Linked DNA regions of Homo sapiens. The protein of the gene in region 2 interacts with the protein of the main gene of each other region in a biochemical or structural test. Each region holds a gene or a part of one and is shown on either strand. Other genes may lie near its edges.

Region 1 (3,816 bases), on a different chromosome or scaffold from region 2:
GGTTGCAGTGAGCAGAGATCACGCCACTGCACTGACACATACACACACACACACACACAACAAGCAGGGACTTGAGAGTCAGACTGCTTGGGTTTAAATTACAGTTCTCCCAGTTACTGGCTGAATAGCCTTGGCTTAGTTACTTGCTGAGCCTCACTCTTCTTATCTGTAAAATAGGGATAATACAGCACATACTTCATAGGCTTTTTGGGAGGATGAAATGTGTGAATATGTGTAATATGTTTTGAACAGTACATAGCACTTAGTAAATGCTGTATGAGTGTTTGCTGCTTACTATTATTATTTGAGTGCTTTTAGATTTAACCAGTAATTGATTGATCTTAGGGATCAGGGTTGTTAATCTTTAATGCTGTATTAGTTAGTATGGGTGCTTCTTAGTGCATAAAAGGGAAAGGAGAAGGAAAAAGGAGATATAAAAGGAAGTTGAATAAAGAAGGATAAATATGGCTGGCTGCGGTGGCTCATGCATGTAATCCCAGCACTCTGGGACTTTGGGAGGCCGAGGTGAGTGGATTGCTTGAGTCCAGGAATTCAAGACCAGCCTGGGTAACAGTGAGACCCGTCTCTTAAAAAAACAAAAACCAAACAAAAACCCAGCCGGGCATGGTGGCATGCGTCTGTGGTTCCAGCTACTTGGGAGGCCAAGGTGGGAGGATTGCTTGAGTCTGGGAGGTGGAGGTTGCAGTGAGCTGAGGTTGTGCCACTGCACTCCAGCCTGGGTGACGGGAGTAAAACCCTGTCTAAAAAAAAGAAAAATATACTGCAGATAATTTTGATGAGGAGCGGGAGAGTGTATATTTCATGTGAGTTACTCACACTAATGTAGTTTCATGTTCTTTTGTTTCGTGATTTTTGCATCCAATCAACAACTCACAGTGTGTCAGTCTAGAAGTGCTCAGTGCTAGAAGTATAGTGGTGCATGAGGTAGTATAGGTTCATTTACAGGGATGTTAATAGGCATTTATAAATTGTTATGATTAATTGTTGTGAATGGTGCTATAGGAGCATGGTGGCATCTGACCAAGAGTTAGGTGGTTCTGTATTTTTATGTTTAATTATAACCCCTTTAGGATTATAATTTAAATTAATTTAAATATAAATCTTAAAATTTAGGTACATATTGGGTGGTGTTTCTTTTTATTCTTTCAGAAAACTGTTAAAGTATTTCATTGAATCTAAGATTCCAATTTCATAGAAGTCAAAATGTGGGGGAAAAATGGCTGATAATGATTCTAAGAGACTCAAAGATACATTCTGACTTTAGAGATGTTAACATGAAAAAAAGCATCTCAAATTAATGACTCTTTGGTACTTGTAATTGATAGCTTCTTAAAATGGAGGAGGACTCTAGTAAGAGAAGCTATAGTATCTGTTTATAAGTCAGTATGCTTTAGAGCAATCTGACTTTTTCATTATAAAAATGTAGGTTTTGGACTAGGCATTCTGGTGCTAAAACAGCTGCTGAGGCCAGCGATCACCCTGTTCTTTGTTCAGTTCCTCACGTTACTCATATAATTACCGTGTGATCGTGTGGTGCTCTGCTGCTTGTTGGTCAGAGCCTGAGTAAGGCTGAATAAGGCTGGATCATGAACCATTCTTTAAAGCAGTGGCCTTTGTATTGCAGTCTAGTTGACATACATGCATACATACAGGTGTGTGTGCACGTGTAACTGAAGAACAGCTTTCACAAAATAATATTTAGCACACTGTGGAATTTTCTCTGATACAGCCTCTTCTCTTTCATGATAAAAATAAATTCGCTGATTATCACACCACTTTGGACCTTTTAAAAATAACACTTAAGAAGTTGGAATAGCCAGGGATCAGAAACTTAGAAATGGACCTTATTTGTTATTGTAACTTATAGCAAGTCATTGTGTCTCTTATTGGGTTCTTTTAGCCATAATAATTGTGCTAGTTCTTTTCTTGCTCTGAGTGCCTGAACCTGTTGCTAAGTGAGGAAGAAAAATCCATATGTAAGTATAAATAAACAAATGTCTTTAATCTTTTTGCAGGTCATCATCAGATTTGAAATATTTAAAGTGGATACAAAACTATTTCAGCAATGCAGACAATTAAGTGTGTTGTTGTGGGCGATGGTGCTGTTGGTAAAACATGTCTCCTGATATCCTACACAACAAACAAATTTCCATCGGAATATGTACCGACTGTAAGTATAAAGGCTTCCTTCTGTTAGTAAAATGTTGTAAAATTTGATATCCTTTTGAAAACGCTTTCTCTATGTGTACTGAATTTTTTTCTGTTGTCTGCCTTTGTTTCCTGTTTTTAAAGATCTTGACTTCTCATGGGTAAATTATATACACTTTAAACAGCTGAAAAATCAGTGGAAAGTCAGAAGGGGTGACACAGGGTTTGCAAGAAGTGCTGGGAGGCAAAACTCCAGTAGACAAGATTCTAACGAGTGGTGGTCTCAATTTGGTGAAGTATGCCCTACATCTTGGAATGAGGTGACTTTTTTTTTTTTTTTTTTGATATTTTGGCCAATTATTGATCAGTACTTGGAGGTCTCCTGGGATACCATTTGAGGTCCTGTAACTTGAGAGAAAGTAGTATGTGTCTCCACTTTTCTTGTGGAGCTGTTCGCTTAGCAGTAATGGAGCTCCAAACTGGTTCTTAGGGGCAGAGAAGAGAAGACCTGTTATGTTTCGAGAACACCAACAGAGTCCTTTGGGGGTCACTCCCACAACTGTTCTTTTCTTTTTTTCTTTTTTTTTTTTTTTTTGAGATGGAGTCTCTATCGTCCATTCTATCTGGAGTGCAGTAGCGCGATCTCGGCTTGCTGCACCCTCCGCCTCCCGGGTTCAAGCAGTTCTCCTGCCTCAGCCTCCTGAGTAGCTGGGATTACAGGCGCCCGCCACCACGCCTTTCTAATTTTTGTATTTTTAGTAGAAACGGGGTTTTACCATGTTGGCCAGGCTGGTCTTGAACTCCTGACCTCAAATGATCCACCTGCCTCAGCCTCCCAAAGTGCTGGGATTACAGGCGTGAGCCACCATGCCTGGCCCCATAACTGTTTTTTAAATCAACTCTTTGGAATGGTAGAAGGAAGATGGGAATAACAAAAATATTGAAGTGAGAGAGAGACAAGAGTTAGAGTAACACTCATTTGTGAAAGGTAGTGAGACCCTGTCTCAAAAATAAGGAAAGTTTTTTTTTTGAAGGGGGGAGAATTTGAAGGTATTATTAAACACTAAAATCATATTGATATTTTGAATTGGCTCATTTGGAGACAAGATAAATGGAAGACGTTTTGAGGTTCAGTGGACTTACAGGGGACATTTAGAGGTACATGAATCTTGTTTCAGAGTGAGGACAGCTATCAGAATTTTTCTGTTTCAGTCTCCATTGAAGTTATTTACTTGTAAACATAATTTCTGAGTCTTTTATGACTTTGATCTTCTGGTGTTATATTTTAAGTGGGCTTGTGGGTGTTTTATATGTATGTTTGTGTTGTACATCTCTGGAAAAGTGATAGAGTGGAAGGAAGAGTAGTAGTAGAATAAAATTTTAAATGAACCGATTTAGGTAAATGAATGGACCATGAGGCACAAGTAATGTTCTCATGGTACCTGTTGAAGTTAATATGGAAATGGATTTGGTGTAGAATGCATTTAAGTTCCCATCTATGAGTTGGGGCTTGCCATTTCTAGAGTAATAGAAATTCAGAGCTGGATGGGACAATATATATTGTCTTACCCATCTCTTAATGGATGAGGGTACTCAGGCCCAATTTAGGGATGAGACTTAGAAGTCTAAGTTTAATTACTTAGCGTA
Region 2 (4,243 bases):
GAAAGGGATCTTCCACCATAGACCAGGAGTGGGGAGTTGTTTGCCTAAAAAAATGTAGCAAGAGTGGAGATGGAAGAAAAGTGGGAAAATCCAGATATTTAGAAGAGAAGGTCAAGATTACTTGGTGGGAGGGAGGAAGAGGGAATGAGGGATGATTCCCAGATTTCTTGCTTGGGCAACAGTGTGGGTTCTGGAGCCATCTATTAAGATAAGAGAAATGAAGAGGAGGGAGTTTTGTGTGTGGAAAAGATCAAGGAAGGATGGTAAAATCACTTGGGACATATTGCATTTGAGGTCCTTCAGGGACATTCAGGTGGATATATCTAATCGTTAATTAAAACGGATCTGAATCAAATTTATGCTGAAGTTCATGTAGAAAAACAAACATACAAGAATGTGTTGGAAAAAAGAGAATCTACTGAGGGGACCTAGCTCTACCAGATATATGAAATTATATATCCTCTATAATTCAACTGGTATATGGATAGCAAACAGACCAATGAAATAGAATAAAAAGCCCAGAAGGTTTTCCAAGTACATATGGATATTTGATATGTAATAAAGGTGGTATCTCAAATCCCTAAAGCAAAGATGGACTTTCTGATGCCAGAACAACTGAGAAACCGATTGGAAAAAGAAAACAAAAGATCCATCAATACTTTATGCCATACACAAATATAAACTCTAAATGTAAAGAAAACCATATGAATACTAGAAGAAAACATGGGTGAATGCTTCTTGGACCTTATGTAGGAAAAGATTTCTTAACTATGAATCGAAATCTAGAGGCAATAAAAGTTAAATAAATTTGACTACTTTTTTTAATGCATGGCAGAAAAACACCATAAACAAAGCCAAAAAGCAACTGACAAACTGGAGAGAAAATTGCAACATATATAACAGTTAATGTATTAAGAAAACTTGAAAATTGAGGTGAGAAGGACCAACAACCCACTAGAAAAATGTGGAAAAGACATGAACCGACAATTCACAAAGAAAGATATTTAAATTGTCCTTAAACACAGATAAGGCAAAATAAAATGCCATTGAGATATTACTTCTCAACTATCATATCAGTGAACATTTAAAAGTATGTCATAGGTTATGTTGGGAAGGGCATTGGGAAACAAAACACTCCCCTATATTTCTGATGGGAATGCAAAAATAGGTCTGAGATTCTGGGGAGGGAATAGCCTGGAGATGTAAATCTGGAAGTCATTGGTCTTTACTGGAAATGAATGAGATCAAACAGGGAGACAGAACTTGAGGACTGAGGAGAGAGGAGGCCCAGGACAGAACCCTAGGAACACTGCCACTCAAGGTGGCAGCTCAGCTTCCTGGCAGGCAGCACCACCCTGGGCTCTGGAGTCAGGCAGAGACAGTCTTGAAAGCGGGCTCTGGAGTTCTGGGGCTGAGCGCTCTTGGCAAAGTCGGGTACCCTCTTTGATCAGCTGTCACACCTGGCGATAATGGCATCAGAGAGAGATACCCTGCGAGGATGCCGTGAGATGCGCCAGGTAAAGCACCTGGGGTCAGAAAGCCACCCCCTCCTCCTCTTCTCCGTGACCCCCCTTTGCTACACAAACACACCCCGACCCCGACCGTCCCCAGCCTCCCGGTCCTTCGGGGTTGGATGGTGAGGTGGGTCAGGCAAGGGGGGCCGAGCTCGGGTGACGCGGCGCTCACGTGACCCGCCGGGCGCCTACGTGGGCACCAGCCCCCGCGCCCGCCCGCCCGCCCTGCGGTCCGGTCCTGGCGCCCGCGCAGAACCAGCTGTCTGAGCTGCCCGGGCAGCGGGGGAGCAGCGAGCGGGCTTCCGCGAGCCGGAGAAGGCACAGGCCTGTCCCGGGTCCCGGCAGGTCAGTGTGAAGGTGGGCGCTGCCGGCGGAACCACGGAAGGGGTGGAGGTGGCTGGCAGTAGGAGTAGGGAGGGGCGGAGAAAGGATCCGGGAGACTGGTGAGGAGGGGGAAGCGGAGCGGTCGGAGGCAAGGGCGGGGGAGCCTGGCCCGCCTTCTCGACGACCCCCTGCACTGAGCCGTCCATCCATTTTAGTACTGGAAATGGAGTACGGGGGGGCAACCCCGCAGTGCAACAGTGAAACGTAGACATATTCTGGAAATAACCGCCTCTCACAATCTGCTCCCATGGAAACATCTGACCTCCGCAAAAACGGGGTGGCGCTGGGACAGGTTGCCTCCAGGGGAAGGGGACACAGAGACAAACGCAGTTTGGAAAGCATCCTGGTTTGGTGCCCGAGGCCTGGAAAGAAATGGCGGCTGGGGTGCGGGGGATGTAGGGGAGGAAAACGTTGGGTAAGCAGGGCCTGGACTCAGGAAAGGGAACCGAGTCCCTGTGAGACCGCTGACTGCGCAGCCCCTACCCCTGTCTCCTGTCTGTCCGCAGGTCTGCGCGTCTGTTCCCAGCGCTCTGCGAGGCCTAAAAAGGAGGAGCAACCTGTCCAGAATCCCTGCAGGTCTGTGAAGGTGGTTGTGGGGGAGCTCAATGGACAGGGCCCTATAAGGGTTGAGAGTGTGGAGGGCCCGGCCAGGGCCGAACTGGGGCCCCTGCCCATCCCCCACTCACATGAACACACACCTTACCAGGCTGAACCAGTGCAGAGAAGGTGGCAGGGACTGCCAGGGAATGGCTGGCTCACGTGTGTGGGAGGAGTGGCAGGCTACGTGGTGGGCAGAAGGCCCTCTTGGGGGCCCTGCCAGCTTAGGGGAACCCTCACCAGGGGTGAGATGCAAGTACTATCCAGACCTGCATTCCACCCCATGCCCTCAGTCTCCCATGTCTCTTATTTGTCTCCTCTTCCCTCCATTCCCATCCCCCAGGACAGGAAAAGGAGGGGAAATCTCGACATGGAAAAACCCTACAATAAAAATGAAGGAAACCTGGAAAACGAGGGAAAGCCAGAAGATGAAGTAGAGCCTGATGATGAAGGAAAGTCAGACGAGGAAGAAAAGCCAGACGTGGAGGGGAAGACAGAATGCGAGGGAAAGAGAGAGGATGAGGGAGAGCCAGGTGATGAGGGACAACTGGAAGATGAGGGAAGCCAGGAAAAGCAGGGCAGGTCCGAAGGTGAGGGCAAGCCACAAGGCGAGGGCAAGCCAGCCTCCCAGGCAAAGCCAGAGAGCCAGCCGCGGGCCGCCGAAAAGCGCCCGGCTGAAGATTATGTGCCCCGGAAAGCAAAAAGAAAAACGGACAGGGGGACGGACGATTCCCCCAAGGACTCTCAGGAGGACTTACAGGAAAGGCATCTGAGCAGTGAGGAGATGATGAGAGAATGTGGAGATGTGTCAAGGGCTCAAGAGGAGCTAAGGAAAAAACAGAAAATGGGTGGTTTTCATTGGATGCAAAGAGATGTACAGGATCCATTCGCCCCAAGGGGACAACGGGGTGTCAGGGGAGTGAGGGGTGGAGGTAGGGGCCAGAGGGGCTTACACGATATCCCATACCTTTAATGCCTTTGGCCTTCCATTCTGATTTCTCTGATGAGAATATTGCTGGCCCTGCTTTCCCTGGTAGGTATTTGCCAGGCCCAATGCTTTAACCTTAAGCTGATACTTTGCTTTAGATGTCAGTCTCGTTACCAGCAGCCTTTTGACCCAACTACGGCGCTCTATATTTTAGTAGAGGATTTTCACCCATGTGCATGGAAAAGATGTTCATGGTACATTGTAAAAAAATAAAATTAAAATTAAAAAAAGTTTGCAGAACCGCATATACAGTATCAGCCCGTTTTTATAAAAATGTAAATGTTTGCATAATGCATTTGTGCACAAAGAAAACTCTGAAAGCATGTACACTAAAAAGCAGCCAATGGTTATTCCTGAATGGTATCCAAAAATGAGTTCAATCACTTGCTGGGTAGGTACCTCCATGCCATTCTGCTGTTGTTGTGCCCATCCTCATGTCTTCCCTAGGTGTAACTACGTGAGTGGGCACTGCTACCCCTTCTCCTGGGTCCTTTACCATCCTATGGCTCCCCCATAGGATGCGATTCTTTTTCTTTTCTTTGCTCTCACTCATCTCTACCTTTTCTTAAAGGATATGTCCTTTTGTCATAACAATAATTTTAAAAACTAAACGAGAAAACAATACATAAACAATTGAACTGTTCAATGAGCTTATGAGGGTAATAAAGACACTTAAAATTTCTGTTGCCAGAACATAAAATGATAAGTAAAATTCATATTACCTCTGAGACTAACAGCTAGAGGTATCAACCTGGCAGTT

The links.
Region 1: the proteins of TCEAL3 (region 2) and CDC42 form a complex in vitro, tested with the Homo sapiens proteins (one large-scale study listed by BioGRID).

The regions. Positions count from the first base shown.
Region 1 is NC_000001.11:22,076,393-22,080,208, forward strand, and holds part of CDC42 (cell division control protein 42 homolog isoform 1 precursor), read left to right. Parts: intron 1-2,036; 5' UTR 2,037-2,086; coding exon 2,087-2,191; intron 2,192-3,816. UniProt on the Homo sapiens protein: Plasma membrane-associated small GTPase which cycles between an active GTP-bound and an inactive GDP-bound state. In active state binds to a variety of effector proteins to regulate cellular responses. Involved in epithelial cell polarization processes.
Region 2 is NC_000023.11:103,606,200-103,610,442, forward strand, and holds TCEAL3 (transcription elongation factor A protein-like 3), read left to right. Parts: upstream 1-1,763; 5' UTR 1,764-1,859; exon of another isoform or gene 1,860-1,871; intron 1,872-2,404; 5' UTR 2,405-2,474; intron 2,475-2,838; 5' UTR 2,839-2,865; coding exon 2,866-3,468; 3' UTR 3,469-3,728; downstream 3,729-4,243. UniProt on the Homo sapiens protein: May be involved in transcriptional regulation.